7 separate regions of the Homo sapiens genome follow, and regions 1, 2, 3, 4, 5 and 7 are each reported to be linked to region 6. Evidence: microRNA targets listed by miRTarBase, many of them from high-throughput screens and not tested one by one. Region 6 holds a microRNA gene; each other region holds the end of a gene's coding sequence. Distances are from middle to middle.

What was found. The annotated mature microRNA hsa-miR-197-3p reads UUCACCACCUUCUCCACCCAGC and lies in region 6 at 1,666-1,687, shown strand. An mRNA with a match to its seed (bases 2 to 7 or 8) in the 3' UTR can be bound and repressed. Matches are read on the target gene's strand: a 7mer-m8 pairs with bases 2 to 8, a 7mer-A1 pairs with bases 2 to 7 and ends in A, and an 8mer does both.
Region 1: the mRNA of VPS41 is a reported target of hsa-miR-197-3p. Seed matches in the 3' UTR shown: 7mer-m8 at 2,187-2,193.
Region 2: miRTarBase lists ZBTB40 as a target of hsa-miR-197-3p. Seed matches in the 3' UTR shown: 7mer-m8 at 472-478 and 7mer-m8 at 3,393-3,399.
Region 3: miRTarBase lists CLEC17A as a target of hsa-miR-197-3p. Seed matches in the 3' UTR shown: 7mer-m8 at 1,312-1,318.
Region 4: the mRNA of CDKL1 is a reported target of hsa-miR-197-3p. Seed matches in the 3' UTR shown: 8mer at 2,409-2,416 and 7mer-A1 at 2,849-2,855.
Region 5: miRTarBase lists AGR2 as a target of hsa-miR-197-3p. Seed matches in the 3' UTR shown: 7mer-m8 at 1,403-1,409.
Region 7: the mRNA of PLCB3 is a reported target of hsa-miR-197-3p. The part of its 3' UTR that is shown has no 7-base or 8-base seed match.

What each region holds. Positions count from the first base shown.
Region 1 is chr7:38,722,480-38,726,536 of GRCh38, forward strand. VPS41 (VPS41 subunit of HOPS complex) reads right to left here. Exons shown (of 29, transcript NM_014396.4): 29 at 495-3,847. The coding sequence ends at 3,767. Among named protein-coding and RNA genes, the nearest start is that of AMPH, 93 kb to the left of the region's middle.
Region 2 is chr1:22,526,017-22,530,078 of GRCh38, forward strand. ZBTB40 (zinc finger and BTB domain containing 40) reads left to right here. Exons shown (of 18, transcript NM_014870.4): 18 at 186-4,062. The coding sequence ends at 380. Among named protein-coding and RNA genes, the nearest start is that of EPHA8, 35 kb to the right of the region's middle.
Region 3 is chr19:14,609,723-14,613,788 of GRCh38, forward strand. It overlaps CLEC17A (C-type lectin domain containing 17A), which reads left to right. Exons shown (of 14, transcript NM_001204118.2): 14 at 342-2,313. The coding sequence ends at 474. It also overlaps a transcript of ADGRE3 not described here. Among named protein-coding and RNA genes, the nearest start is that of SNORA104, 10 kb to the right of the region's middle.
Region 4 is chr14:50,326,455-50,330,513 of GRCh38, reverse strand. CDKL1 (cyclin dependent kinase like 1) reads left to right here. Exons shown (of 10, transcript NM_004196.7): 10 at 333-4,059. The coding sequence ends at 440. It overlaps DMAC2L (distal membrane arm assembly component 2 like), which reads right to left. Exons shown (of 6, transcript NM_001382507.1): 6 at 2,557-4,059. Among named protein-coding and RNA genes, the nearest start is that of DMAC2L, 16 kb to the right of the region's middle.
Region 5 is chr7:16,789,436-16,793,501 of GRCh38, reverse strand. It overlaps AGR2 (anterior gradient 2, protein disulphide isomerase family member), which reads left to right. Exons shown (of 8, transcript NM_006408.4): 8 at 545-1,691. The coding sequence ends at 594. Among named protein-coding and RNA genes, the nearest start is that of AGR2, 14 kb to the left of the region's middle.
Region 6 is chr1:109,597,275-109,601,340 of GRCh38, forward strand. MIR197 (microRNA 197) reads left to right here and starts at 1,619; the gene lies at 1,619-1,693. It overlaps GNAI3 (G protein subunit alpha i3), which reads left to right. Exons shown (of 9, transcript NM_006496.4): 9 at 1-2,921.
Region 7 is chr11:64,266,737-64,270,802 of GRCh38, forward strand. It overlaps PLCB3 (phospholipase C beta 3), which reads left to right. Exons shown (of 31, transcript NM_000932.5): 30 at 449-535; 31 at 617-1,187. The coding sequence ends at 820. It overlaps BAD (BCL2 associated agonist of cell death), which reads right to left. Exons shown (of 4, transcript NM_032989.3): 4 at 3,094-3,601. The coding sequence ends at 3,473. It also overlaps a transcript of GPR137 not described here. Among named protein-coding and RNA genes, the nearest start is that of BAD, 16 kb to the right of the region's middle. RefSeq lists a silencer at 2,756-2,875 and enhancers at 3,326-3,755, 3,885-4,066.

The DNA.
Region 1 (4,057 bases), not on the chromosome of region 6:
TTTCTATTCTAAGAGTGGATTTTGCTTTCTATCCACTGACCAAAACAGCTCAAATAAGTATGTTTTAACAACAAAAAAATCAAATATGCACCAGTTAAGATCAGGCACTCTGAAGGCAACTGCATGGGTTTGAATTTCAGCTAGGTGTTCCACTATCAGCTACCTGACCCTGGACAAGTTACTTAACCTTTACGTGCTTCAGTTTCTTCATCCATAAAATGACGATGATGGTAATAACACCAATTTCATAGGGATACATTAATATAATTAAATAGTATAAGCAAAGTGCTTCTAATAATTCCTAACACATAGTAATTACTCAATGCATGTTTGGTTTTTAATATTAAAATACAGTAGAACCTTGAACAATGTGGGGGATGAGGTGCTGACACCCCATGCAGTCAAAAATCCACGTATAATTCCCCCAAAACCTAACTACTAATAGACTACTGTGGACTGGAAGCCTTACTGGTGACATAAATAGACCATTAACACATATTTTATATTTTATTTATATTATATGCTATATTCTTATAATAAAGCAAGCTAAAGAAAATAGTAAGAAAATCATAAGGAAAAGAAAATATATTTACTACTCATTAAGTAGAAGTGGATCATCATAAGTGTTTCATCTCTGTCGTCTTCATACTGAGTAGGCTGAGAAGGAGGAGGAAGGGGAGGGCCTGGTCTTGCCGTCTCAAGGGTGGCAGAGGCAGAAGAAAATCCATGTATAAGTGGATCCTTGCAGTTCCAACCTGTGTTGTTCAAGGGTCAACTATATATAGCTTTACATTGTAACAACAGCAAAATGAACTACAAATCTGTTGGAAACTTCTCAAAAATTCTCAAGGATGAACATAATTAAACCAGTATGAAATCCCTTTGGCTAAAAACAAAAGCAAACTAAAGTACTCCAAAATAATTTTGCACCTGGCTGTTTTACACTTCAAGAATAGCTTTCTTGGCTGGGCATGGTGACTTACGCCTGTAATCCTAACACTTCGGAAGGCCGAGGTGGGCGGATTCCTGAGCTCAGGAGTTCGAGACCAGCTTGGGCAACATGGTGAAACCTCATCTCTACCAAAGTACAAAAAATTAGCTGGGCATGGTGGTGCGTGCCTGTACTCCCACCTACTCCGGAAGCTGAGACGGGAGAATCACTTGAACCTGGGAGGCGGAGGTTGCAGTGAGCCAAGATCATGTCACTGCACTCCAGCCAAGGCAACAGAACGAGACTCCATCTCAAAAAAAAAAAAAAAAAAAAAAAAAAAAAGAATAGCTTATGAAGTGTGTACTTTGCAACTATGTTCTTCCCCAAAACGAGGGGAATGGGTTTCCTTTTTACCTATATTTTAAATTGGGCTAGTCACACATGAAAAATAATTGACTAACACTTGGATTATTTTGCCATATTTAAGCCCTTATAGGTTGATGAAAAGTAAAAAGGATTGAATATCCTTTAATAAATCACCCAATACTGTTTATTCAAAAGAAAAGACATTCTAAGGAACGAAAGCTAGTGTTTTTTATTAACGATAAAATCTATATTGTTCAGGAATTTTCCAGTGTGTTACAGCAATTTCTGAAATGATAAACGAACATATTTTATTATTTTCCTTTTAAATCAGTTACTTAAAAATGAAGACTGTTTAATTATTTTCTCCTTTTCTATAAGTAGGATTTTCTTTATGTCCAAATAGGACTTGGTAACTAGGATAATTTACCCCTGAAGCAAAATGACTTCACTGAAATTAGCAAATCCTATTGATGATCTTAAAGTAAACTTTTCTGGAAATGAGCTTGCTCAAATCATAAGTGAGGATTAATGTAAATGTAATAAACTGAATCTGTAAATTGGTAATGTTGAAAAGAAAAAACAATTGGGTAAGAACAAAACTGAAAACTAGCAGTGTAGCAGAAAGCACACTAGTCTTGGGATAAGGAAATGCTGAGAAGGCTGAGGGGTACATTCAATAATAACAAAGAGCCTTCCAGTTCTAAGTATTTGTGACTAACAACAACAAAAAAATCTGTTGTTTGCTAGAGAATTCTTAACTCTAATGTGAAGATATGTTCTGTGCATTTCCTTTGAACTTGGCCCTATGATTTCTTTTCTTTTCTTTTCTTTTTTGAGACGGAGTTTTGCTCTTGTTGCCCAGGCTGGAGTGCAATGGCGCGATCTCAGCTCACCACAACCTACGTCTCCTGGGGTCAAGTGATTCTCCTGCCTCAGCCTCCTGAGTAGCTGGGATTACAGGCATGTACCACCACGCCTGGCTAATTTGTGTTTTTAGTAGAGATGGGGTTTCTCCATGTTGGTCAGGCTGGTCTCGAACGTGCGATCTCAGGTGATCCACCTGCCAAGGCCTCCCAAAGCCCTGGGATTACGGGCGTGAGCCACCATGCCCGGCTGGCCCTGTAATTTCTTAAAGGGATCAGAAGCCCTGCTCTGAAGTTAGGCAGTCACCTCTGTGACCTCAACAACATCTCTACATTTTGCTTTCTTTATCTGTAAACCTAGGTTTATCAGATCTTCTTCCTGGCGACGCTGTGACAATTAAATGAACTGCTGCTCATGGGAATGGCTGGGTGACTTCGGTAGCTGGCATGCTGTCAGTACTCACTAGCACCCTGTCCTTTCCCCAAAAAGAAAGAAGCAGAAAGCTGTATTTGTTCCCATTTATGGGACTAAGAGATCAGGAACAATAAGGATGTGTTTTGCGCACTTTTACACTCATTAGAGGATGACCATATATCCCAAGGAAGATGAAGCCAGTAACTGTAAGACACAATTACAAGTTTGACTTTTCTCCCTCTATGATATGCTCTGTTCCATGAGGGCAATGGAGGCACCAGAGAAGGCAAGAGGAAACATCATTAGTCCGTCCTTCAGCATCAGGTGGTCCCACTGCTCCTGAGGCACCCTCAGTTTTCAGGGTCACTGGTTTCCTCCCTCCTGGCAAACTCTAGCCACAAGCGCTCAGACTCGAAGGTGTTGAACTCTCTTTTCTTCCTTACAAGGGTGCCAGAATTCTTAACTGCATTTGTTTATCCCAGTAAAAGTGAGTCCTTCACAATGAGAAGAGCTAACATTTATTCAATCAACAAATGCTGAGTGTCCGCCATGGCCAGATACTCTTTGACAGTCGTCACAGCACACAGAACATGTGATTAGTAAACATAATGGTGCAGGACATCAGCCTGCTAATGTTATTCCCAGGTGTCATCAAATGAGTGACAATTTGTACAATGTTTCATTAAATGCCTATTTAGAGGATAACCATAGTTGATGACACAGAAAAAAGCCAAACCCAGAATGCAAGAATCGTAGCCAGCAGAGCACGTGGAAACAACGTCCAAGTTGCAGGTAGCAGCTTGCAGGATAACCACAGTTGGCGACGCTTTCAGGCAGCTGGGAGAATTCTCAGTTGTCCATTTTATGGTTAAATGGTTTTACTAAGGTCTAAAAAATTCATTTCTAACTCCTAGACTTATGTTTCCATTACTATATAAAGAATGAGCCAAACAAATAAATAACAAAATATTCACTATGGACCCCAAAATTTCAAGGCATGAAGAGAGCCCCAAATTCTCTGTGAACTGCAAAGAGAAACCATTAGTACAGGAATAGATGAAGAAATTGTTTTTGAGTATAATATAAACATAAACAAATCTCTTAACAGCACGAGTGTCAACAAATGCTTTTGTTGTTGCAAAAACAGTCTCAAAAAGAGTGGTGACAAGGAGACTGACAAGGAGAAATGAGCTATTTTTTCATCTCCAAAATTGCACTTCCTGGTCCACGGTTCTTAGCACTGCAGATGTTGCAGAACTGTGCAGCAGAGTTCTAAAAATGCAATTTAAAAACACATATTTAAAAAATGATCTTCTTTTTCTACTCTCATATTCAGAAACACTAAGGTAGCGTTAGTCAGGGGGTGGAGAGGAAGTAATAGGATGGCACTCCTTTCTCTGGAGTTTATTTCTGGTTAACATAGGATTTAGTCTAGATCAGCTGTTACTCTGTGACTCCAAGGACACCCAACAGCAGAATACG
Region 2 (4,062 bases), 87 Mb from region 6:
GTTTGCTGGCCTTCTCTTTTGCATCGCCAGTGGGTTAGACTTGCCTCTTCCCATTAGGCACATGTAAGTGCTCTCCTCAGGTGAAAACATAAATATCATCATTACAGCATGAGATGAAAACCATGTAAATCAGGGAGCCAACTGTGAACACTGCCCAGAGCAGCCTCACGGTCTTTCTCTTTCAGGTGATCCAAACCCCAGAGCCGGTGGCCCCGACAGAGCAGGTGATCACTTTGGAGGAGACCCAGCTTGCCGGGTCGCAGGTGTTTGTGACGTTGCCAGATTCTCAGGCATCTCAGGCCAGCTCTGAGCTCGTGGCGGTGACTGTGGAGGACTTGCTGGATGGCACAGTGACGCTGATCTGTGGTGAGGCCAAATGAGCAGCCTTTCATCCGGCAGAGCCTTCCTGCGTTTGCAGCAGAGAGGAGGCCCCACAGCTTGCCCTTTGCCCTCCATCCCTGGCTGTCCTGAGTGGTGAGCATCTTAGCTTAGCACCAACCAACACAGTCTCACCTAGAAAACAGATGGAAGCTTCGTTGTTCTCATAGAACCAACAGCATCTGAGCCCTCAACACCAACAGCACCATCCTCTGTAGCAGACAGGCCTCCCTCCCCACAGGCCCGCTGCTGCGGCCTCTATGACACTGTCCATCCCCAAGTGACATGTGGCTTCAGAAGTAGAGTCTGAAAGAGCAGTGGGATGGGAGCTGGTGACCAGGGTACCCCAGGAGGCATGATGTGCCGACAGCGCTCAGTGGGCAGAATGGCAGTTAGATATGGGACTTGGCCCACAGTGGGGGCTGCAAATGCTGCCACTGCCTCTGGCCATTTAAAGTGAGAGGGGCACCAACAGACAATTCGGGGACCTTAGGCCCCTTCCTGAGGCACACTTGGCCCCTTCCTCGGTCCTATCATCCTACCCTCTGCTGGGGTTCCCCCTCCACCCAGTGGCCACGCCCAGCACCCTATTGATGGCTATAGGACAGGTAGCCCTCATTTCCATGCCTGATAACCCCTTGTCAGTTGTCAGCTCTTCCCAAAACAAAGCTCTGGAGTTTCTGCTGGAAGTGTTTAATGTGAGGCATCAGCTGCTAGACAGTGTCTGCCTTTCCAGGACATTCTTCTTGGTATTCCTTACCTGAAGCCTGGTTCCCACAGCTCTTCCGTGTCATCTTCATCCCCTTCCTTTAATCAAAGGCTGAAATCTCTGCCTGACCTGGCAGCCTGGCTCCCTCTGGGTCATATGGTGCAGACTGTGACCAGCACCAGGCAGGCAGTCCTGTCTGCGTGTGGAGGAGCAGCCGTGACTGCCCGTGGCTCTGCTGCCGCCCACTCCCTGCCTTGTGAGTGGCCTGCTGCCTCACCTCCCGCAGGCCGCCACACTTATTGCAGGTCAGTGATCCTTTGGAGTTTGAATTTCACAAAGCTTTTTTTATCTTCAGTTCCTAAAATATAATCTGATAATTAATGGTTTGTGGAATCCATTATGAAGTGCAATTAGATAGATGTAGGTTCCTGCCGTTTGGAGAGAATGACTAGCATTTATCTTCTTTTCCTTCCATGCCAAAGGTTGGAGTCTGCTGGTGCGGTGTTTACACACCAGGCAGGGCTGTCTGCCACCTTGTGTGGCTTGACCCCCTGTGGAGGGGAGTGCCTGGTTGGATCCCACACTGGCAGAGATGGGGCCACCCCTTCCTTCCAGGCACATCTCACATTGCCATGTACAGAGGCAGGAGTCACGTTTGGTCACCATGGAAGCTTTTATTGCTCCCACATGGTCAGGTCTCACCCTGCTTGAAGCGCAGAAGGCACAGCCTTACTGACCAGCACGCCCACTGACTGGCATCTGCCGGCTTTGTGCAGGCAGCCCCGACGGTTTCCACAGCGAGCGCCAGCTCCGGCCAGCCTGGGACAGCTCATCCCAGCCGACTACACCTGCTTCTGGTCCTGTCCACATTTTGATACGCAGATCACTTGAGCTTGTCAATTAGGGTTCTGCCATTCTGAAATAAATGAAGTTTCTAAAGCAGAGTCGGCCTCAGAAGCCAAAAACTGACCAGAAGATGGTGCTCAAACCTTTAAGACTTCATCTCCATGTGAAGGGCTCACTGTTTCTACCAAGGCTGTGCCTGTATTAAGGCTTTTCCGTCCTGGGAACTGTCAGTCTGGGAGAGCTCTTGATCTGCAGGTGGCAAAATGGCACTGAATATCCCCTTGGCAGCAGAGAAAACCCACTGAAAGATCGTAGAGTGGCACATGCTTACAGGGCATTGGTGCCAAGTCCAGTGGATGAGAATCCAGCCCCTCACAAGCTGTGGGATGGGGCTTGGGAGTTGCAGTGAATGTCATTAAAATTTCTTCCAAAACAAAACTAGAAATAATTGCTGAGGGCTTATAGGGAAGTGATTTAAAAAGAAAAAACAAACAACAACAAAAAAAACTCTTCGGAATAAAGAGGGCTGTAAATTTTGAATTCCAGTGTCAGATCCTTTCAAGCACTGAGAAATTCTTTCTCAGGTTTCTTTTTTTGGGGGAGACAGGGTCTTGCTCTGTCACCCAGACTGGAACACAGTGGCACGATCTTGGCTCACTGCAACCTCTGCGGGCTCACGCAATCCTCCTGCCACAGCTTCCCAAGTAGCTGGGACCACAGGCGTGAGCCACCACTGCTGGCCAGTTTTTGTATTTTTTTTTTTTTTTGTAGAGACAGGGTCTCGCCATGTTGCCCAGGCTGGTTTAAAACTCCTGAGCTCAAGCAGTTCTCCCACCTGGGCCTCCCAAAGTGCTAGGATTACAGACATGAGCCACTACGCCTGGCCAGGTTTCTGTTGGAGACCCAGATTGTGACAAGACATTTGTTTTCTTCGGAATCACCAGATTTGCAGCTTACTGTGCCGAGAGTGGACTGGCTGCCGGGGCCCATCAGATGCCCTCTGGCCCATGGCACACTCAGCAGAAGGCACAAACCCAGTGCTGGTTCTCATCAAGAAAGAGGGGAAGGCCCTTCCCGAGTTTACTGTCTGCTCTGAGTGGGCTCCGCACTGGCTGACTGATTTTATAGTCTTGCTCTCTAGAGAAGCCCAGGCATGGATCTTATAGGAAAACTTTCTGACTCTGCTTGGCCATTTTATCCTTTTCTCCTACTTCTGCCCAAGAGACCTGAATTGCTGCCATAGAGGACAGTGTTTGTGTGGTCTCCTGAGTCCACATCGCTCGCTTCCATGGGGTCCCGGTGTTGTTTTTGCCTCGTTCCCCATAGGCTGCTGCCCTTATGGCCTCTGGACTGAACTCTGGGGCCTTTGGGGTGGTGTGAAGGAGTCTGTGGGCTTCTTGGAACACATGGATCTGTTCGGTGGGTCCCCAGACCTCTGCTCCCAGAGCTCATGGCCCAGGTGGTGAGGAGGGAAAGGCAGTCAGATTCCAGGCTGGAGTGTGATTCTGTGGGAATACTGGGGTCAGTTATGGAACAGGACTTGCCCATCATAGGTAAGTGAGACAGCAAATAGATGATTCAAGAGCAAGGATTACTGCGGGAAGGTGAGACTCCTACTGTCCACGCGCATGAGCAGAACCTGGAACCAGAGGGGCAGGGACCAGGGGTCTTTACTCATTTATTTTATGGGTAAAGAGACATGAAGAGACAGCCTCTCTCTTCTGTCTCAGAAGCTCTGTGTTTGGGAAACTTTGAGCCCAGTGAGTAGCAGGGTCTGCAGTGTGAGTACCAGGTTTCCCTGGCAATCCAGGTCTCCTCTGAGGAAGCATTCTGACTTCCCACTGACCACGGAAGGCATGTCAGCTTCATGCCTCGGGCTAGAGTTCTGATAATCGGGGCTGAGGGGTGAAAAGAAATCCAGTCAGACAGACAGTGGGGAGACAGGTCCCTGCCCTTTATTTGCGGGATCAATCAGGGACTCCCAGAAAGGAAGGAGAATGGTGAGAAGGGCCCTAAGAGTTCGTCTCTCACCTGGGGGCTGGTGACGTGGTCACCACAAGCTGAAGACAGGCTAATGGGGTGGCGGGTGTGTGTTTAAACCTCACGTGCCTGGAAGCTGCACATTGACC
Region 3 (4,066 bases), not on the chromosome of region 6:
AGCTACTTGGGAGGCTGAGGCAGGAGAATTGCTTGAACCCAGGAGACAGAGGTTGCAGTGAGCCGAGATCACGCCACTGCACTCCAGCCTCAGCGACAGAGTGAGACTCTGTCTCCAAAACAAAACAAAACAAAACAAAAAACCCCCCAAAACCAGAAATTGATTAAGGGCCAGGCACGGTGGCTCACTGTGCCCGGCTTACAGGTGTAAGGCTCCACACACGGCCTAATATGGGTTTTGCCAAATGCGTAGTGCCAGGTATTCATCATTACAGTATTATACAGAAGAGTTTCACCACCCTAAAGATCCCTGTCCCTCTGCCCACTTTTTCCTCCATCCAGCTTCTGGGAGCCAGAGGAACCCAATAACATCCACGATGAGGACTGTGCTACCATGAACAAAGGTGGCACCTGGAATGATCTCTCTTGCTACAAAACTACGTATTGGATTTGTGAGCGGAAATGTTCCTGTTGAAGCCCAGGGCCGAGGCTGGGGGTCCATATCTGAGTGTCTCTTTGAGATGAGAATCTCCTGCCCTTTCGTGGACGGCCTTGCCTCTTCGTGAGTGGACACACAGATGTGCCTCAAACAGGATTGGCACCCTGGATGCAGCAAGTTCCCAGGGGTGCAAGTCAGGCTGTTTCTAGAGTGAGGACTTGGGCTTGCCCTAGTAGATGGTGAGCTGGGAGGATGCTCAGAGCTTGGTGGTGGGAGGTCTCCCACTTCTGGGGTTGAAAGGATCTTCACTAAGTTCCTGATCATGACTCTTGGGAAGTGATACTAGCCCTGAGGACCCTGGGGCTGGTGTTGAACCTGGGATGAAATATCCTGGCGCCTGTGAACCACAAAGAGCTGGGACTGGGCTCCTTTTCCTGCAGCCTCAAACTTCTGGGCTCAGGTGATCCTCCCATCTCAGCCTCCTGAGTAGCTGGGACTACACATGCGCACCACCATGCCTGGCCAATTTTTTGTAGCATTTAAAGAGAGGGAGTCTCACTATGTTGCCCAGGCCAGTCTCAAACTCCTTGCCTCAATGGATCCTCCTACTTGGGCTTCCCAAATTGTGAGGATTACAGGTGTGAGCCACTGTGCCTGGCTCAAAATTATTATTATTATTTTTATAGAGATGAGGTCTCACTCTGTTGCCGAGGCTGGTCTCAAACTCCTGGGGTCAAGCAATCCTTCCGTGATGGCCTCCCAAAGTGCTGGGATTACAGGCATGTGTCACCGTACCTGGCCGATATTTTTATTTTTATTTTTACTTTCCCCATCTTTTCCTTTTTTTTTTTTTTCCAAACAAAAGCTTTGAAAGTGGTGACAGAAAAATTTCCCTTTGAGCTAGACCTCTAGATCTGCCTCGCACAGAAATACATTAAGTGGGCTGGTCTCATGTAGTCCCCACATCATTGCAAATTACAAACCTAAAAATACAGAACATCAGCGGAGAAGACAGGAGAGCTTCTATATTCACCCCATGTCGTCCTCTCCAGACACTGCTTCCTTCCTGGTCTCAAACAGCACAAATAACCCAGAAACCATCAAAATTATTTTTGACCAGCAACTTTCTCAATGTCTTGGGTGAGGTTTGCACAAGCTAAGTGGCAGAATCAGACTTTTGCCAGAAGACTTGGCCCGTGGAACTTCTATCCTTTTTTTTTTTTTTTTTTTTTTTTGAGATAGGGTTTCATTCTACTACCCAGGCTGGAGTGCAGTGGCACAATCATAGCTTACTGCACCCTCTGCCTCCTGGGCTCGAGTGATCCTCCTGCCTCAGCCTCCCAAGTAGCTGGGACTACAGGCGTTCACCCTCACACCTGGCTGGCCCATGGAACTTCTAGAAAGGCATACCAGCTGAAAAGCAAGACCCCTACATAGTGTGGCCAGGCAGGCCATAACCTGGTCATATCCACACAGGACAACGATGGACCTATCTGCCAGCACGTGCCCTTGAGCTATCTGTGGGTTGTAACGTCTTTGATGATATAATTCACTTTACTTGCCAGGCACAGTGGCTCACGCCTGTAATCCCAGCACTCTGGGAGACTGAGGTGGGCTGATCACCTGGGGTCAGGATTTCGAGACCAGCCTGGCCAACATGGTAAAATCCTATCTCTACTAAAAATACAAAAAAATTAGCTGGGCGTGGTGGCATGTGCCTGTAATCCCAGCTACTCAGGAGACTAAGGCACGAGAATTGCTTGAACCCAGGAGGCGGAGGTTGCAGTGAGCCGAGATTGTGCCACTGCACTCCAGCCTGGGTGACAGAGCAAGACTCCATCTCAAATAAATAAATAAAAATAAAAATTCACTTTACTTCTGTGTGGACTTTCCTGGGCTATTAGCTCTTGCAATGTTAGTGCTTCTCAAAATGCCACTATGTTGGGTGTTCCTTGTCTACTGTGTGTTAGTTTGCTGGGGCTGCCATAACAAAGGACTGGGTGGCTTCAGCAACAGAATGCATTTTCTCACAGTTCCGGAGGCTGGATGTCCAAGATCAAGGTGTTGGCAGGGTTAATTTCTTCTGAGGCCTCCTGTCTTGGCTTGTAGATGATCCTCTTCTCCCTGTGTCTTCACCTGGTTCTCCTTCTGTGTGTCTGGGTCCTAATCTCCTCCTCCTCTTCTTTTGTTTTTGAGACAGGGTCTCGCTCTGTCACTCAGGCTGGAGTGCAGTGGTGTGATCTCAGCTCACTGCAACTTCCACCTCCCAGGCTTAAGCATCCTCCCGCCTCAGCCTCCTGAGTAGCTGGGATTACAGGTGTGCACCACCGTGCCTGGTTAATTCTTGTATTTTTTGTAGCAACGGGGTTTCACCATGTTGCCCAGACTGGTTTTGAACTCCTAGGCTCAAGCAATCTGCCCACCTTGGTCCCCCAAAGTGCTGGGATTACAGGCATGAGCCACTGTGCTGGGCCTACAACGACCACTTTAAAGATCCTGTCTCCAAATACAGCCATATTAGGAGGTCCTGGGAATTAGAATTTAAACATATGCATTTGGGAGGGGTGGCACAATTTGGCCCATAACATTCACAAACTGCCAGAGTGACCCCCACCCGACCCTCCTGCCCTGGCCATGTGACAACCAAAAAATACCAATTAGAGGGCTGGTACTACTCCCAGCTAGGCATAACTCAACATAGTATTCCCTTTGGACAATCCCTGAATTGCATCCAAGGGTGGGTAGACATTCTCCAAACCAATCAATTTATTTTTTTTTTTTTTGTGACAGAGTCTTGCTCTGTTGCCCAGGCTGGAGTGCAGCGGCGTGATCTCGGCTCACTGCAACCTCTGCTTTCCAGGTTTAACTGGTTCTTCTGCCTCAGCCTCCTGAATAGCTGGGATTTCAGGCACGTGCCACCATGCCTGGCTAATTTTTGTATTTTTAGTAGAGACAGGGCTTTGCCATGTTGGCCAGGCTGGTCTCGAACTCCTGACCTCAAGTGATCCGCCCACCTCAGCCCCCTAAAGTGCTAAGATTACAGGCGTGAGCCACCATGCCTGGCCTTATTTTATTTTTTGAGACAAGGTCTCACTCTGTCGCCCAGGCTGGAGTGCAGTGTTGTAATCATAGCTCACTGAAGCCTCAAACACCTGAGCTCAAGAAATCCTCCGTCCTCAGACTCCTGTATAACTAGAACTACAGGTGTGCCCCCACCACACCCAGCTAATTTTAATTTTTTTTTTTTTTTGTATAGACAGGGGTCTTGCTTTGTTGCCCAGACTGGGCTTAAACTCCTGGTCTCAAACAATCCTCCTGCTTCAGCCTCCTAAAATACAAGGATTGCGATCAATTTATTGATCAATAAGCTCCCTTAATCAATAGCAGAATCTTTCCTGTTTTGTCTGAGAACAGGTGCTTATAGCAAGGAGACTGTGAGGAGAGCAGGTGGTGGGAGAGGTCGGAGCTGATTTCACTTCCTGTTTCTTTGATTTGTTTTAAATCTACTTGTTCTTTTATTTCGTTATTAAAAAAATTTTTTTTGAGATGGAGTGTCACTCTGTCACCCAGGCTGGAGTACAGTGGCATGATCTCGGCTCACTGCAACCTCCTCCTCCTGGGTACAAGC
Region 4 (4,059 bases), not on the chromosome of region 6:
GGCATTGGCTTAAATGATCCCTAAGATCTCAGCAAGCTCTCAACTCCTGTAAATCTATGTTTTCTTCCCAATAATGTTAACATGTAGATTTTCCCCTTTTCATATTCTCTAAATCTTCTTTAATGTGAATGTTTTTCCTTTTTAATATAAACATTTAAAAGGAAAAGCCAAGACGAAATTGAAACATTTAATCCTCTCTCAAGTCCTGGATTGTGTGCAAAAAAAGTACTTCTATACTAAAAAGCTTAATTACCTCTTTTGTGATATATTCTAAATAATGAAAAAAATGCATGGCACAGTTTTGAACCTAATTCTGTGTTTTGCATTTTTAGTTGCAGTACCTACCCCAGCTAACTGGCAGCAGCATCCTTCCAGCTTTGGATAATAAGAAGTACTACTGTGATACCAAGAAACTTAACTACCGTTTTCCAAACATTTAAAGGAGCTAGGAGACATGATTTTAAAAAAGGAATCAATAGATGCTTTGAAGAAAATAAAACTTATACAGTTGATTGAAAACAATTACAATGTTGAAAACACACCAGGAGAAAACATAAGCAAGAAACTGGGAGGCCAACTGGCAAGATATGAAGGGAAATTCCAGATCCAGTCTTCCATGCTTGATGATGGTGTCCAGAAAAGAAAAAACCTGTTTGGAGTTGCACTTGTATTTCAGTTTATGTAAGTAGCCGAACTTATGGACAGAATATGAACTGTCCCATACCTCTGGCAAAACTAGATGATATCAAAAAGATTTATGCTTCAGTTGTACCACATGCCACACAAGAAAAATGAACCACAAAATGCCCATATATATTTCCTCGGATCTCTGTTGCCTGAGTCCTATCTCCTGCCTCTCAGATTGTTTCAGCATCATATTTAAGATAGTTCTATTTCTTGAAATCAAAATGTTTAAAATCCCATTTCCTGCTTGCTCTATTTCTTGATTTTTATATTTTAAAACATTTTGAGGGTAACACTTAGGTTCAAAATATTTAAAAGCATATGAATTATCACAAAAGCTTGGTAATTTATAATTTAATTATATGTTTCCACATTTCATCCTTACTTTATCAGTAAAGGATACACCTTAGTCACTTTTGCAGGCAACGTGGATTTACTGTAATCTGTCTACATTTATTCACCCAATTCCCCTTGTAAACAATGGCATGAAGCTCGGCAGCTGATTAAGGCAGTCAAAGGGTAGAGCAAGACCTACAGGCTTTGCAGGAACTGAACCTATCAGCCTGAAAATAATTAGTATTTCATTCTCTCTGGCACAGCCTTTGACCTGGTACATCTATAGGCAAACCTGTAATTCAGTGATCTGGGTTTCAGAAGAAATTACTTGTGAGCTTTTACTTGAGTCATGAAAGACATTATGTTGTAAACTGATGTTTTCCCTGAAACATCTTTTTGCACTATGTTTGTATGTGTATGTATGTGTATGTATATATATATATATATATATATATATGCTATTCTAACAACTAATATATTACACTAAGTAGTCCAAAGTATTGAGGACTCATAGCTTTGCACAGTGAGACTTAAAATGATGACACACACACACATATATATATATGTGTTTTTTATATATATATATAAAACCTGCCACCTCAGCCTCCCAAGTAGCTGGGACTGCAGGCATGTGCCACTATACTGGCTAATTTTTTTGTATTTTTTGGTAGAGGCAGGGTTTTGCCATGTTCCCCAGGCTGGTCTTGAACTCCTGGGCTCACGTGATCTGAGCGCCTTGGCCTTCCAAAGTGCTGGCATTACAGGCATGAGCCACTGCGCCTGGCCAAAATGACATAATTAGCTTTGATTTGGTCTACTGCTCTTAATCAAAAAGCTTTTTCATCCTTGTCCCCTGGACACAAGGGCAATATGAAGCCTGACGTCTGTTTCTTACAGCTCAACACCATTTCTGGTTGATGTGCTGCCACTATTCCTAGCACTTCTCAGCCATGGTCTTCAAAGTTGTATTTCACTCTATTTTCAAAACATTTCTTCTGTACTCTCATTTTCTTCCTGTTAATTTTCTTCATGATGACATCTGACCCCATTTACTTAAGTAATCCACTGAGGTCTGGTGTCTACTCAATAATTTTGACTACCCTAGGCAGTTTAATGATATCCTAAGGCTTCCTAATGTATGTCTTTTCTTGCCTAGACCTGATATGGGTTAAATGCTAGTCCCTGAATTATTCAATTCCTGTTAGACGGCCTTGATTCAAATGACAAGGAAGAACATCCAGCTTCCGTGAATAGTTAAAAAAAAATTTTTTTTTCCTTAACCCAAGAAAATACACTTGACGGAGGCAGATTACTATAACAGCCTAATAATTCAGCCAATAGTTTTACCAAAAACTATTCAGAATAGAAAAGTAGCTCTAGACTAAATCGTGGTGAATCAGTTGTCTCACCATACAGTAATGAAACAAACCTGAGAAAAAAGGCTTATTTTTTTCTAATGAGTTCCGTTAAATTTATGCTTATGTTCAATTTAACCATATTTATAATGCTTTTATTCGGTATGAAATCTCCACTGTATCACATGAGACTCTTCCACATCCTTTTATTTACTATTTTCTGATTTTTAAAATGACAGTGGCAATTACCATTTATACTGTGTTATTTGTATAAGCTGTTAAACACAACATTGTTAAACACAACGAAAATTCATTTTTCTACCTGAAAGCTGTATCATAGAAAATTATTTTCAAGTTTATATTCAACAGCTTAATAATGTTCAAACCAGGCTGGGCGCGGTGGCTCCCAGCACTTTGGGAGGCCGAGGCGGGTGGATCCTGAGGTTAGGAGTTCAAGACCAGTCTGGCCAAGATGGTGAAACCCTGTCTCTACTAAAAGTACAAAAATTAGCTGGGCGTGGTGGTGGGCGCCTGTAATCCCAGCTACCTGGGACGCTGCGACAGAGAACTGCTTGAACCCGGGAGGCAGAGGTTGCAGTGAACTGAGATCACACCACTGCACTCCAACCTGGGCAACAGAGTGAGAGTCTGTCTCAAAAAAAAAAAAAAAAAAAAAAAAGTTCAAATCAAACACACAGAAATCTATAAACAAACTGGCATATAAGAGTAATAGAATCAGGGCCATTTCTCACAGGTAACAATGAAGACCTGTTTTATCTATTTTTCACTTTTTTTTTTTTTTTTGAGACAGGGTCTTAATCTGTTGCCCAGGCTGGAGTGCAGTGGTGCCAACATGGCTCACTGCAGCCTCGACTTCCCGGGCTCAACTGATCCTCCTACCTCAGACTCCTGAGTAGTTGGGACTACAGGCATGTGCCACTACACCCAGCTATTTTTTATTTTTTAATTTTTTGGTAGAGACAGGGTTTTGCCATGTTGCCCAGGCTCGTCCTGAACTCCTGGGCTCAAATGATCTGCCTGCCTTGGCCTTCAAAAGTGCTGGGATTACAGGCCAGCCCTTTTTTTTAAGAGACAGGGTCTCCCCCTTTCACCCAGGCTACCAGGCTGGTGTGCAGTGGCCGTGATCATAGCTTACTGCAGCCTCAAACTCCTGAGCTCAAGCAATCCTACCACCTCAACCTCCCAAGTATCTGAGATTACAGGTATGCACCACCATGCCTGCCTAATTTTTAAAATTTTTTTAGAGATGGGGTCTCACTGTGTTGCCCAAATTGGTCTCAAACTCCTGGTCTCAAGTGATCCTCCCACCTCAGCCTCCCAAAGCACTGGGATTACAGGCACGAGCCACGGCACCCAGCCTAAAGCAATGTTAGGTTTCAAGAAAAACCTAAGCATAGCCCACTAGTTTTTACTGTTTCCTTTATTATATTGCAATCTGCAAAACTATTTGTATTCAGCCAAGTATCTATGTCCAGTTTTAATAAAATAGTAGCCTAAGCTTACAAAATAGACAAATTAAGCAGCAACTGTTGATTCTGAGTAAGTCTGTATGCTATCAAGAACACAAGAATGCAGGATCATGGGAAATGCACGCAAATCCTGTTGAAGCAATGCATGCTTCAACAACCACTGACCACTTTGCATAATTGACTCCATCAATGAA
Region 5 (4,066 bases), not on the chromosome of region 6:
GGATTCTTTTGGAAGTGAGGGTTGGAGATGAAGGATCTGGGAAGGAATGACTACACTAGAAAACTAGATTGTCACAAAAGCCATTTCATATAATTTTTTTAAATTACAATAAGATTACCAACTATTCACCTCATGATAAAAAGCATCCTATCAGGCTGGGCACAGTGGCTCACGCCTGTAATCCCAGCACTTTGGGAGGCCGAGGTGTGTGGATCACTTGAGCTCAGGAGTTCGAGACCAGCCTGGCCAGCATACCAAAACCCCATCTCTCCCAAAAATACAAAAATTAGCTGGGCATGGTGGAGCACACCTCTAATCCCAGCTACTCAGGAGGCTAAGGCTGAAGAATCACTTGAACCCAGGAGGCAGAGGTTGCACTGAGTGGAGATTGCACCACTGCATGCCAGCCTGAGTGGGAGTGAGACCTTGTCTCAAAAAAAAAAGCATCCCATTAAATAATGAATTGAGCATCCAAGTTTGGGGTTTATTATATCGATATAACGCACGATGGTGTCTTGACTCTCCTGCTTTTATCCCCCATTAGTGCTTGACAACATGAAGAAAGCTCTCAAGTTGCTGAAGACTGAATTGTAAAGAAAAAAAATCTCCAAGCCCTTCTGTCTGTCAGGCCTTGAGACTTGAAACCAGAAGAAGTGTGAGAAGACTGGCTAGTGTGGAAGCATAGTGAACACACTGATTAGGTTATGGTTTAATGTTACAACAACTATTTTTTAAGAAAAACAAGTTTTAGAAATTTGGTTTCAAGTGTACATGTGTGAAAACAATATTGTATACTACCATAGTGAGCCATGATTTTCTAAAAAAAAAAATAAATGTTTTGGGGGTGTTCTGTTTTCTCCAACTTGGTCTTTCACAGTGGTTCGTTTACCAAATAGGATTAAACACACACAAAATGCTCAAGGAAGGGACAAGACAAAACCAAAACTAGTTCAAATGATGAAGACCAAAGACCAAGTTATCATCTCACCACACCACAGGTTCTCACTAGATGACTGTAAGTAGACACGAGCTTAATCAACAGAAGTATCAAGCCATGTGCTTTAGCATAAAAGAATATTTAGAAAAACATCCCAAGAAAATCACATCACTACCTAGAGTCAACTCTGGCCAGGAACTCTAAGGTACACACTTTCATTTAGTAATTAAATTTTAGTCAGATTTTGCCCAACCTAATGCTCTCAGGGAAAGCCTCTGGCAAGTAGCTTTCTCCTTCAGAGGTCTAATTTAGTAGAAAGGTCATCCAAAGAACATCTGCACTCCTGAACACACCCTGAAGAAATCCTGGGAATTGACCTTGTAATCGATTTGTCTGTCAAGGTCCTAAAGTACTGGAGTGAAATAAATTCAGCCAACATGTGACTAATTGGAAGAAGAGCAAAGGGTGGTGACGTGTTGATGAGGCAGATGGAGATCAGAGGTTACTAGGGTTTAGGAAACGTGAAAGGCTGTGGCATCAGGGTAGGGGAGCATTCTGCCTAACAGAAATTAGAATTGTGTGTTAATGTCTTCACTCTATACTTAATCTCACATTCATTAATATATGGAATTCCTCTACTGCCCAGCCCCTCCTGATTTCTTTGGCCCCTGGACTATGGTGCTGTATATAATGCTTTGCAGTATCTGTTGCTTGTCTTGATTAACTTTTTTGGATAAAACCTTTTTTGAACAGATCTTTTGGCATTATTAATTTTTCCAGGGATATATTTTCAATCTTTTCTATCTCTCCTAGTGACTACTATCATTAGTAGGTGTTGAGCATATACTGCTGATTTAATGACATACAAATCTTCAGCAAAAATATCACAGGTTAATCAGCTCCCTTCTCACAAGTAGATAACTTACATGTGCTGAAAAAGGTAAAACATTCCATTTAAAAAGATCTCTGAGGGATAACAAGAGGAAAAAGAGGTTTCCCTTCCATAAACAAATATTTTAAATGACAAGTTCTAAGTGATTCAAGTTTCTCCTATAGTATAGCAAAATATTTTTTCATTGGGCGGACGTGAAATAAGGTTAACTTCTTAAAATGTATTGAATGGCAAAATATCTTAACACATACAAATACTTTTTAAATATAAATAAATATTTAGGAAATCAAATGTTACAGCTGTAAGGAAAATAAGTCCCCCTTTTAAAAGCATTGAAGAAACACAAAGCATGAGTCATTAATTGACTTTGTCCCATCAGTCTCCTCCACCACTGAGAATTTATCCTAAGGAAATCATTCAACAGAAACAGTTCTGTCAAGATGCCAATGGTAACATTATTTAAACGTACCACAGAAAAGCAACCTCCCAAAAATATAATGGCCACATGGTATATTAAGACAAAATGCAGTTTTTTAATCCTGTCTAGGTGAGTAGTCATAAAAATTCTTCTCTCCCTCCCCCTCCCCCTCCCCCTCCCCCCCCCCCCCCTCTTTCCACGGTCTCCCTCTCCCTCTCCCTCTATTTCCACGGTCTCCCTCTCATGCCGAGCCGAAGCTGGACTGTGCTGCTGCCATCTCGGCTCACTGCAACCTCCCTGCCTGATTCTCCTGCCTCAGCCTGCCCAGTGCCTGCGATTGCAGGCGGGCGCCGCCAGGCCTGACGGGTTTTCGTATTTTTTTGGTGGAGATGGGGTTTCGCTGTGTTGGCCGGGCTGGTCTCCAGCTCCTAACCGCGAGTGATCCGCCAGCCTCGGCCTCCCGAGGTGCCGGGATTGCAGACGGAGTCTCGTTAACTCAGTGCTCAATGGTGCCCAGGCTGGAGTGCAGTGGTGTGATCTCGGCTACAACCTCCACCTCCCAGCCGCCTGCCTTGGCCCCCCAAAGTGCCGAGATTGCAGCCTCTGCCCGGCCGCTACCCCATCTGTGAAGTGAGGTGCGTCTCTGCCTGGCCGCCCATCGTCTGGGATGTGAGGAGCCCCTCTGCCTGGCTGCCCAGTCTGGAAAGTGAGGAGCGTCTCTGCCCGGCCGCCATCCCATCTAGGAAGTGAGGAGCGTCTCTGCCTGGCCGCCATCCCACCTAGGAAGTGAGGAGCGCCTCTTCCCGGCCACCATCCCATCTAGGAAGTGAGGAGCTTCTCTGCCCGGCTGCCCATCGTCTGAGATGTGGGGAGCGCCTCTGCCCCGCCGCCCCGTCTGGGAGGTGAGGAGCGTCTCTGCCCAGCCGCCCCGTCTGAGAAGTGAGGAGACCCTCCGCCTGGCAACCGCCCCATCTGAGAAGTGAGGAGCCCCTCCGCCCGGCTGCCACACCGTCTGGGAAGTGAGGAGCGTCTCCGCCCGGCAGCCGCCCCGTCCGGGAGGGAGGTGGGGGGTCAGCCCCCCACCCGGCCAGCCACCCCGTCCGGGAGGTGAGGGGCGCCTCTGCCCGGCCGCCCCTACTGGGAAGTGAGGAGCCCCTCTGCCCGGCCAGCCGCCCCGTCCGGAAGGGAGGTGGGGGAGTCAGCCCCCCGCCCGGCCAGCCGCCCCGTCCGGGAGGGAGGTGGGGGGGTCAGCCCCCCGCCCGGCCAGCCGCCCCGTCCTGGAGGGAGGTGGGGGGGTCAGCCCCCTGCCCGGCCAGCCGCCCCATCCGGGAGGTGAGGGGCGCCTCGGCCCGGCAGCCCCTACTGGGAAGTGAGGAGCCCCTCTGCCCGGCCAGCCGCCCCGTCCGGGAGGGAGGTGGGGGGGTCAGCCCCCCGCCCGGCCAGCGGCTCCGTCCGGGAGGGAGGTGGGGGGGGTCAGCCCCCCGCCAGGCGAGACGCCCCATCCGGGAGGGAGGTGGGGGGTCAGCCCCCTGCCCGGCTAGCTGCTCCGCCGGGAGGGAGGTGGGGGGCTCAGCCCCCTGCCCGGCCAGCCGCCCCATCCGGGAGGTGAGGGGCGCCTCTGCCCGGCCGCCCCTACTGGGAAGTGAGGAGCCCCTCTGCCCGGCCACCACCCCGTCTGGGAGGTGTACCCAACAGCTCATTGAGAACGGGCCATGATGACAATGGCGGTTTTGTGGAATAGAAAAGGGGGAAAGGTGGGGAAAAGATTGAGAAATCGGATGGTTGCTGTGTCTGTGTAGAAAGAAGTAGACATGGGAGA
Region 6 (4,066 bases):
AACATGGTGAAACCCCGTCTTTACTAAAAATACAAAAATTAGCCAGGCATGGTGGTGGATGCCTGTAATCCTAGCTACTCGGGAGGCTGAGGCAGGAGAATCGCTTGAACCTGGGAGGCAGAGGTTGCAGTGAGCCGAGATCGCACCACTGAATTCCAGCCTGGGCGACAGAGTGAGTCTGTTTTTTTTTTGTTTTTTTTTAAAGTCAACACAAATATTGAAAATAAGCAACTTCAGTGCACAAATAAGCTCAAAATCACTAGTGAGTGATCTATTTTTTGCCAATAAGAAGTACCATTTGTACATGACTTAAAGTGCCTTCCACCAAGAAAATTATTGAAAACTGTTGGGTCACATAACATTCCTACACTTTGGATACAGAGTATTTAGTTTTATACAAAATTAAGACAACAAGAAACCTAGGATGTCCAAACATTCATTTCATTTATTTTACTGCATTTATTTATGCAGTGAAAATTGAAAGATACACCAAATTAAAGATAAAACCCTGTGACAGATAACAGTATATGTAATAACATGAATATTTATTTACACTTGGTAGAGAAAGCAAAGCTAGCTAGCTCTAAACTAGAATGAAAGTCGTTTTGAAATGGGTACGGGGGTATATAAGGGGAATGATTGAGTCACATGTAAAAGCCTTTGTATGCCCAGTGCTAGTGTTTTCCTGAAATCTAGTGAGAATCACAAGGTACCAGAAATAATCAAATAATAAATATTAATACACTGCTGGGATAGAAGTATCTCAGTGTACCAGCATTCACTAAGCTATAAAATCTGTGACAGCAGGAATATTAAATTATGAACAACCTGGTTTATCTGTCTCCTCTTATCTTTTACCTCTCCCTACGCCCAAAATTCTCCTTAGGTTATCCAGACATTTTTACTAAGATGCTTATTTATATGTAAGAGAGATTTCCAGTAGATACAACAAAACACAAGAAATCACCTGTTCTGTTTATTCTTGCTCATGTAGGATAAAGGTCCTGAGACCTCTCAGAATCTTACGAGGTTGGAGAGTTGTTTGGAATGCTGGGTTCTGGTCTTGTCTCTGCTTCCAACCAGCTATGGAATCTTGTGTATTCTTTCAGTCTTAAATCACTCATCTGTTATCTAAAGATGGACTAAATTATTCCTTCCTGCTGTGATATTCTGTGGTTCTCATCAGATAGAAATAACATATTTGAAAATGCTTTGTAAATGTTATGATACTCAGGATTATACTGCACAGAAAAAAAAAAATCCTAAGGCAGCACCAACAAAGGTATTCAACGTAGTGGGTGGTCTTTTACAGCATTACTTTGCCCATATTCATTTTGAAGACCTGAAATGAAGTTGAACTATAAATTGCTCTAAAATTCGTGAAGCAGGGTGAAAAGGTCTTTGCTTTGTTTTACATTTAAATCCAGCTGTCTATTTTCTGCTTATACTAGTGCTTTTTCATGGCAAAAAGACAGAAAAGTTCCCTTCTGCAGTCTCCAGTGTCTTCTGACCTCACAGAAATGTTTTCATGCTTTTACCTAGCAGGACCACCAGAGGCTCTGTCACACTTGCAGTCCCTGGCCCAACACCGAAATCCTTCTGGAATCTGTGCTCTGGGGGCTGTGCCGGGTAGAGAGGGCAGTGGGAGGTAAGAGCTCTTCACCCTTCACCACCTTCTCCACCCAGCATGGCCGGCACACTTTGGTCTACGGCACATCTCCAAGTATAGAGTGGGTTTTGAATGCTGTTATGTCTCACCGTGGGGATGGGAAGGAATACTCTGTTTTGGACTATTTGGAGGTACATGTGAGTGGATTTTATTACCAGAGTAGGAACTGTTTCAAGTTAATGTGTCTTTTATGTTGCTTTTAAGACAACTTTTGTGCCGCTTTTATCCATTCTTCCTTTTATCCACAGAAATACAAATTTCTAATTATAGTATATTTTTTCTATTTTTAAAATTGTGATAAAGCATATATAACAAAATTTGCCATCTTAAGTGTACAGTTCAGTGGCATTAAGTACATTCACACTGTTGCACAGCCATCACCACCATCCATTTCCAGAACTTGTTTTCATCTTCCTGAACTGAAACTCTGTACCTGTTAAACAGTAACTCCCCATGCCCCACCTTCTTTCAGCCCCTGGTAACCAGCATTTTCCTTTGTCTCTATGAATTTGACTATTTTAGATACCTCATATAAGTGGAATCATAGTATTTGTCCTTTTGTGTCAATCATATTGTATTTTTGTCTAAAAAAGGAAAACTATCAGATTTATGTGAAATGTAACGTAATTTACATTTGATTTACTGTTAGTAATGTCTCTTTAATCATGCTATGCTAGGGAAGTACATTATGGTCTCTCCCTCTAAGAATATGAAGAGGAAATTTTACCTTCAACAAACAAGCAAACTTAGTTATATTTTTGTGATTTTATGCTGTTTTCATATTCTATTTTGAGATCTATTTGTCTTAGCTTGGAGGTGGTTTTGTTAAATGTCCACGATTTAGAGACGGCATAATGAAAAAATGACCAAGAATTTGGTTGGGAATGGGAGGAGCTTAGAAGAACAAGAAATTGGCTTTGATTTTATAGTGTATGGTGCTCTGTTGGTAGCTGGACATCATCACAGGCTTTGGATTGAGAAGACCTGTTCTGGAGTTCTAGTTCTGCTACTGCCTAGCGTTGTGATCTTGATGAAGATACTCTTCCTTCCTGGGCTTCAGTTTTTGATCTATAAATTGCTAGTGATGGGGCTGGACTATTTTTAAGTTTGTTCTAACTTTAGCAGTCTTAAGAATTAAGGTTGCATGCCAGAAAATAGGGTTAAATATTTGTTTCTGATCTGGTTACAAAAAAAAAAAAAACTTGATGGCTTAAAGTAAATAAAAATTCAACAGTACGGTGTAAATTTAAAATGAGGCAAAAGAAAGATAATGACTTAATTTTTATTTTAATCTTTCTTATAGCTGTTTTATATAAGAACTTTTCATGAATACAATCAAAATGTCCATGAGATAAAAATAAGCTAATTGTGCAGGAAAAGTACAAATGCACTTTTTCTGCAGCTCTAACATGTAAGGTTTGGGAACAATCGTTGGGCCTGACAAACAGTTGAGCTAGGGTAAGGGTGAATGCCTTTTCTGGAAGCCTATCAAGAGCATCGAGGTGAAGTCCTCTTACCTTTAATCATGGGAGAGCCCATTCTGGACCAAGGGTTTGAGAAAATTATTCTGACTGTGTTCTAAGGTAATAGGTGAATGGGTGCTCAAGGGCCCCTGTTGCATTTCATGTAGACTTGCCAGAAGAGTTTTAGCTTGAAAACATCATAAGATGAATATAGGCAGATCCCAAACTCAGTAAAAAAACAGCTATAGAATGTTGCTCTATCCTCCAAGATGAACACTTTACATAATGTTTGTACAAGGTGGCTTGTGTGAGTTTGTTGATAAACCAGTTAAAAGTTGGGATATCCCCCAGCTATCCCAAAAGAAGAGGACTAAATACAACCATGTTTTAGTCTGCTAGAGACTTGTGTTCTGACCTAAGACCTGTCAGAAGACCTGTCCCACTGGCTCTGCTTCTGTACTAGTACTATAAGGCAGGTTCTGTGTGAACATTAATAACCAAGGATCCTGAGTTAGACTTATAGTTTGGTCAATAACCAATTTATACCTAGATTGAAAGACCAAGGAAAAGTTAATAAAATAATCAACAATCTGGTACTATTTGAGGGAAAGTAGGGCTATCCTATTTGGAGATGGAATAAATGGGATAAATTATGTTTGGGGCCTGAATAGACAAGATCATAGCTTGTATAGTAAGGGTTCTTAACCTGGGGCTTCAGAGCTCCAGCGAGTCTACAGAGAGACTATTTGATATGCTAGTTTTCTTTGTATTTCTCTGAATTTAATTTTACGTGTTTAAAAATATGATGATGAAAAGAGGCACATGGTTTCATCAGATTGCCGGAAGGATCCATGATACAAAACAGATTCAGAACTCCTGTATGTTGAGTTAAAGTGAACAGATTAGTAATGGTTGGAGCATGATATTCAGAGTA
Region 7 (4,066 bases), not on the chromosome of region 6:
TTTGGCGTCCTTGGGCCCAGTCCTCTCACAACCCTGATACATTGCCCTGGGAGCCTTCGCCCACCTGACTTCTTTTTCTTTGAGACAGAGTCTCACTCTGTCGCCCAGGCTGGAGTGCAGTGGCGCGATCTTGGCTCACTGCAACCTCTTGGGTTCAAGCAATTCTCTTGCCTCAGCCTCCCGAGTAGCTGGGATTACAGGCATCCGCCACCATGCCTGGCTAATTTTTTTATTTTTAGTAGAGATGGGGTTTCACCATGTTGGCCAGGCTGTTCTCGAACTCCTGACCTCAGGTGATCCGCCCGCCTTGGCCTCCCAAAGTGCTGGGATTATAGATGTGAGCCACTGCACCCGGCCTCGCCCACCTGACTTCTATACCCAGCCAGAGCCTCGAGGCTCTAGCCCCTCCCTCAGGGCCCCTCAGCTGAGCCCTTGCCCACCCCTGTAGCTGGAGGAGGCCCAGAAGCAGCGGCATGACCGTCTTGTGGCTGGGCAGCAGCAGGTCCTGCAACAGCTGGCAGAAGAGGAGCCCAAGGTGAGGCCATGGGCGAACAGGTGGGCAGACGGGGTGCAAGGCAGCCAGGCCTCGCCTGTGATGCCCATCCTTCTCCCACAGCTGCTGGCCCAGCTGGCCCAGGAGTGTCAGGAGCAGCGGGCGAGGCTCCCCCAGGAGATCCGCCGGAGCCTGCTGGGCGAGATGCCGGAGGGGCTGGGGGACGGGCCTCTGGTGGCCTGTGCCAGCAACGGTCACGCACCCGGGAGCAGCGGGCACCTGTCGGGCGCTGACTCGGAGAGCCAGGAGGAGAACACGCAGCTCTGAACTGGCTGAGCGAGGTGGCCACAGGGCCAGGGCGGGCGCTGGGTGGAGGGCAGGAGGCAATGACACTAATGCTTTTTTTTTTTTTTTTTAACTTTTTATCTAGAAATTTTATTTTTTTAAACCCGGGGCAAGTACCTCAGCTAACTCCCTTCATCCTCCTGGGGCCCCTCCTTCCTGCCCTCAGTCTTAGGTTAGGGCCTTGGTCAGGGCTTTGCTCCCTGTGACACCCACACCCTCGAGCTAGCAGCGTCTCCTCCCTTCCCCGGGAGAGCTGGCTGGAGACTTGGAGCTCCGGGAAGTAGGAGTCACATTTTTTTCTCTATTCTTTGGGGATTTTTTTTACATGAATAAAAGTGGATTTCAGGGACCCTGTGTGCAGTGTGATTTGGGGTGACAGGACTCTGGGCCCTAAGTTTCCTCATCTATAAAATGGACTTTGGGCATTTGGTGGGGTTGAGGTCACGCCTCCAGCCAAGGGCTGCTGGGTTGAACCTGAGCTTGCCCTGCCGAGTCTGCTGAGCTTCCGTGGCCTTCTGCTTGTGCCCTCTGCCCCCAAGCCGCTGTTCCTGTTCCCCCATCCCCATGACTTTCGTCTCTCCGAGGCTCTCCCTGTTCTCTCTTTTCTGAGGCTCAGGCCTCTGCTTCAGGAAGCCTTCCCTGCCCCGCTTCCTGTGGCCTGATATGACCCAAACGCCTAGTATCTTCCGCTGGGGCTGCTCTGGGCCCCCGACAGGCAGTTGACTCTATCAGGTGATGGATCGGCCAGGGTGGAGCAGGGCAGCTCAGAACCTGCCCAACACCGGGGGACCTGGGTCTTCAGAAATAGGTGGGCAGTAGGCCTGCCTGTGACTCTGGGGGAAGGGAAGTGGACAGTCACAGACACGCAGGGGCTGGGCCACCCAGCATCCCCTCATCCCTGTGAGGGAGATGTTATGCCTGTTTTACAGATGAGGAGACTGAGGCCCGGAGCCATCTGTCGTGTGCTAGGCCACAGCTAAGTCAAGACGTCCTGACCTGGAGGCAGGGCAGGCCTGGACCCTCCGTGGTGGACTGTCTTCAGCCAGCCTGGACCTGTCCCATGCCTCAAGACCAGCGAAAAGTGGCAGAGAGCCCACAGTGCGGGCTCCAGGGCGGGGCTGGGCTCGCAGCAGGGTCGGCTTGGCACCTCTTCAAGGCCTCTCCCAGCTTCCTGGCTCTTCCCAGGCTGCCCGCCTGCATCCCTCCTCCAGGGGAAGGCGGCCTCTTATCTGGGCTTATCTCCTGCCAATTGAGTATCTTCTTTGCTTTGTTTTTGCTGCAGCCTCAGGCAAACAGATGGGGTGGGGAGGCCAGGGAAACAGGCTCCGGAGTAGGGCCCTCCTCCCTCAGGGTCAATGCAATGGCCCCAGACTTCCTCACTTCTTCTGTGGGACGCTGCCCTATCCCCCAGTTCTGCTCACTCCAGTGTATTCCGTATCTAGGCTCCTCAGCAGCCAACTCCCACCTTCCTGACTCTAGCTGGTGTCCACTGAGGGACACACTCCAAGTCAGTTCCCAGGTCCTCAAATACCAGCTGAATGTCTAACTTCTGGGTGTGACATTCCAGCCCCTAGAAGCCTGGCCTCTGCTGCTCCCCTGTCCTTCCATGGGTCCACTCCTCCTTGCGCCGGGGGGGATGACCCTCACCTCACCTTCCGGTCGCAGCTCTAGCTGCCTCCTCCCTGAAGCCCTCTCTGACTGCCCTGCCGATTCCGGGCCCTCGGGAGCTTCCGCGAGCAGGGCCGTGGCGCAATGCATCTCTGTGCCCGGCACCAAGAACCGGCCCGGGTTATAGGGGGCGCCAATAAATCTTTCTGGAACGGAGCCCCCGCTCTGTCCGGGTCCCCGCATGAAGCCTCAGTTTCCAGCGACCGCGCTGCTGCCAGCCTGGCTCAGCCGCTCCCTCCCGCCCCGCGAGGTACCCGGGCGGCGCTGGCCCCGGGCCGGCCACACAGTAGCTGCTGGAAAGGGCTGACCCAAATAGGAGCGAGTGACCCTCTCTGGGGGGCCGCGGCACGGTTTGCAGAGCGCGGGATCGGGCTGCCGGCAGCGCTGCGGTCCCAATGCGCGTGCTGGGGACTTGGACCTGGGCCGCGCAGCCCAGGCCCGCGAGCCGCCGCGACCCCTTCCGTCTCTGTCGCTGGATGTCAGGCAGAGCCTAAGTTTCCCTCGTAAGACAGCGGCCTCTTTTGAAAGTATCCGTGAGAGCACTACCCCGGCCTGCCGGAGCCCCAGTCGACGCACAGAAAAGCCTCGGCGGCACAGACGCGGGCTTTATTAACATTTGGTAGTGAGCACGGCCCCCAGGGCATCGCGGGGGCTCGGGTCCCGGTGACGCAACGGTTAAACCTGGCTCGCGACTTAGCGCAGGCGCCTGGGGGAAAGCCCGGAGCCTGAGGGCGGGGCCACGGAGCCACTTCCGGCGGCTGTGGGCGGAAAACCCAAAACTTCCGATGGGACCAAGCCTTCCGTGGCTTCACACGCACCGGAAGGGAATCTGGGTCAGCCCTCCCTCCAAAGGAGACAGCACGGATCCTCTTTTTGCATAGGCCTGAGGGAAGTACTTCCGCCCATATTCAAGATGGCTGCCCAGGGCAGTGGGAACGGGTGGAGTTTCGGGATGTGGAGCGAAGGTCACTGGGAGGGGGCGGAGCTTCCCCTGCCCAAGTTCCGATCCCACCAGGACTGGAAGACTCGCGTCCAGCTGGAGCTTTGCCGCATCTGCGTTGCTGTGCCCGCGCTCTTCGGGCGAGGAAGTCCCTTCTGGTGGAGGGAGAAAAGGGTTACATGAGTTAGATTACCATGGCAGCTCGAGCCAGGCTCTCCACTTCCGTGAGCCTTCCTCTAAGTGAGATCGGGGGGGAGATAATGAAGGCCACAACTCCCAGGAGGCTCCACGCCGGGCGGTCAGGGACGCTCGCGAGGACGCATGGGCCCCCAGGAATGGGAACTGGTTAGATCCCAGGAACTCCGTGCCGGAGACGGGAAGAGAGGATGCCTAGGGCCCTAAATGGAAAGGCCAGAGCTGGAGACCTAGCACCCAGAAGATGAGACCGCAATTCGAGAATCAAAGGGCCGGGAGCGATGGTGAGCGCCTGTAATCCCAGCACTTTGGGAGGTTGAAGCGGGAGGATCCTTTGAGGCCAGGAGTTCCAGGCTGCAGTGAGCCGTGATCGCACCACTGCACTCCAGCCTGGGCGACAGAGCGCACAGGTGCCAGCAAGGAGC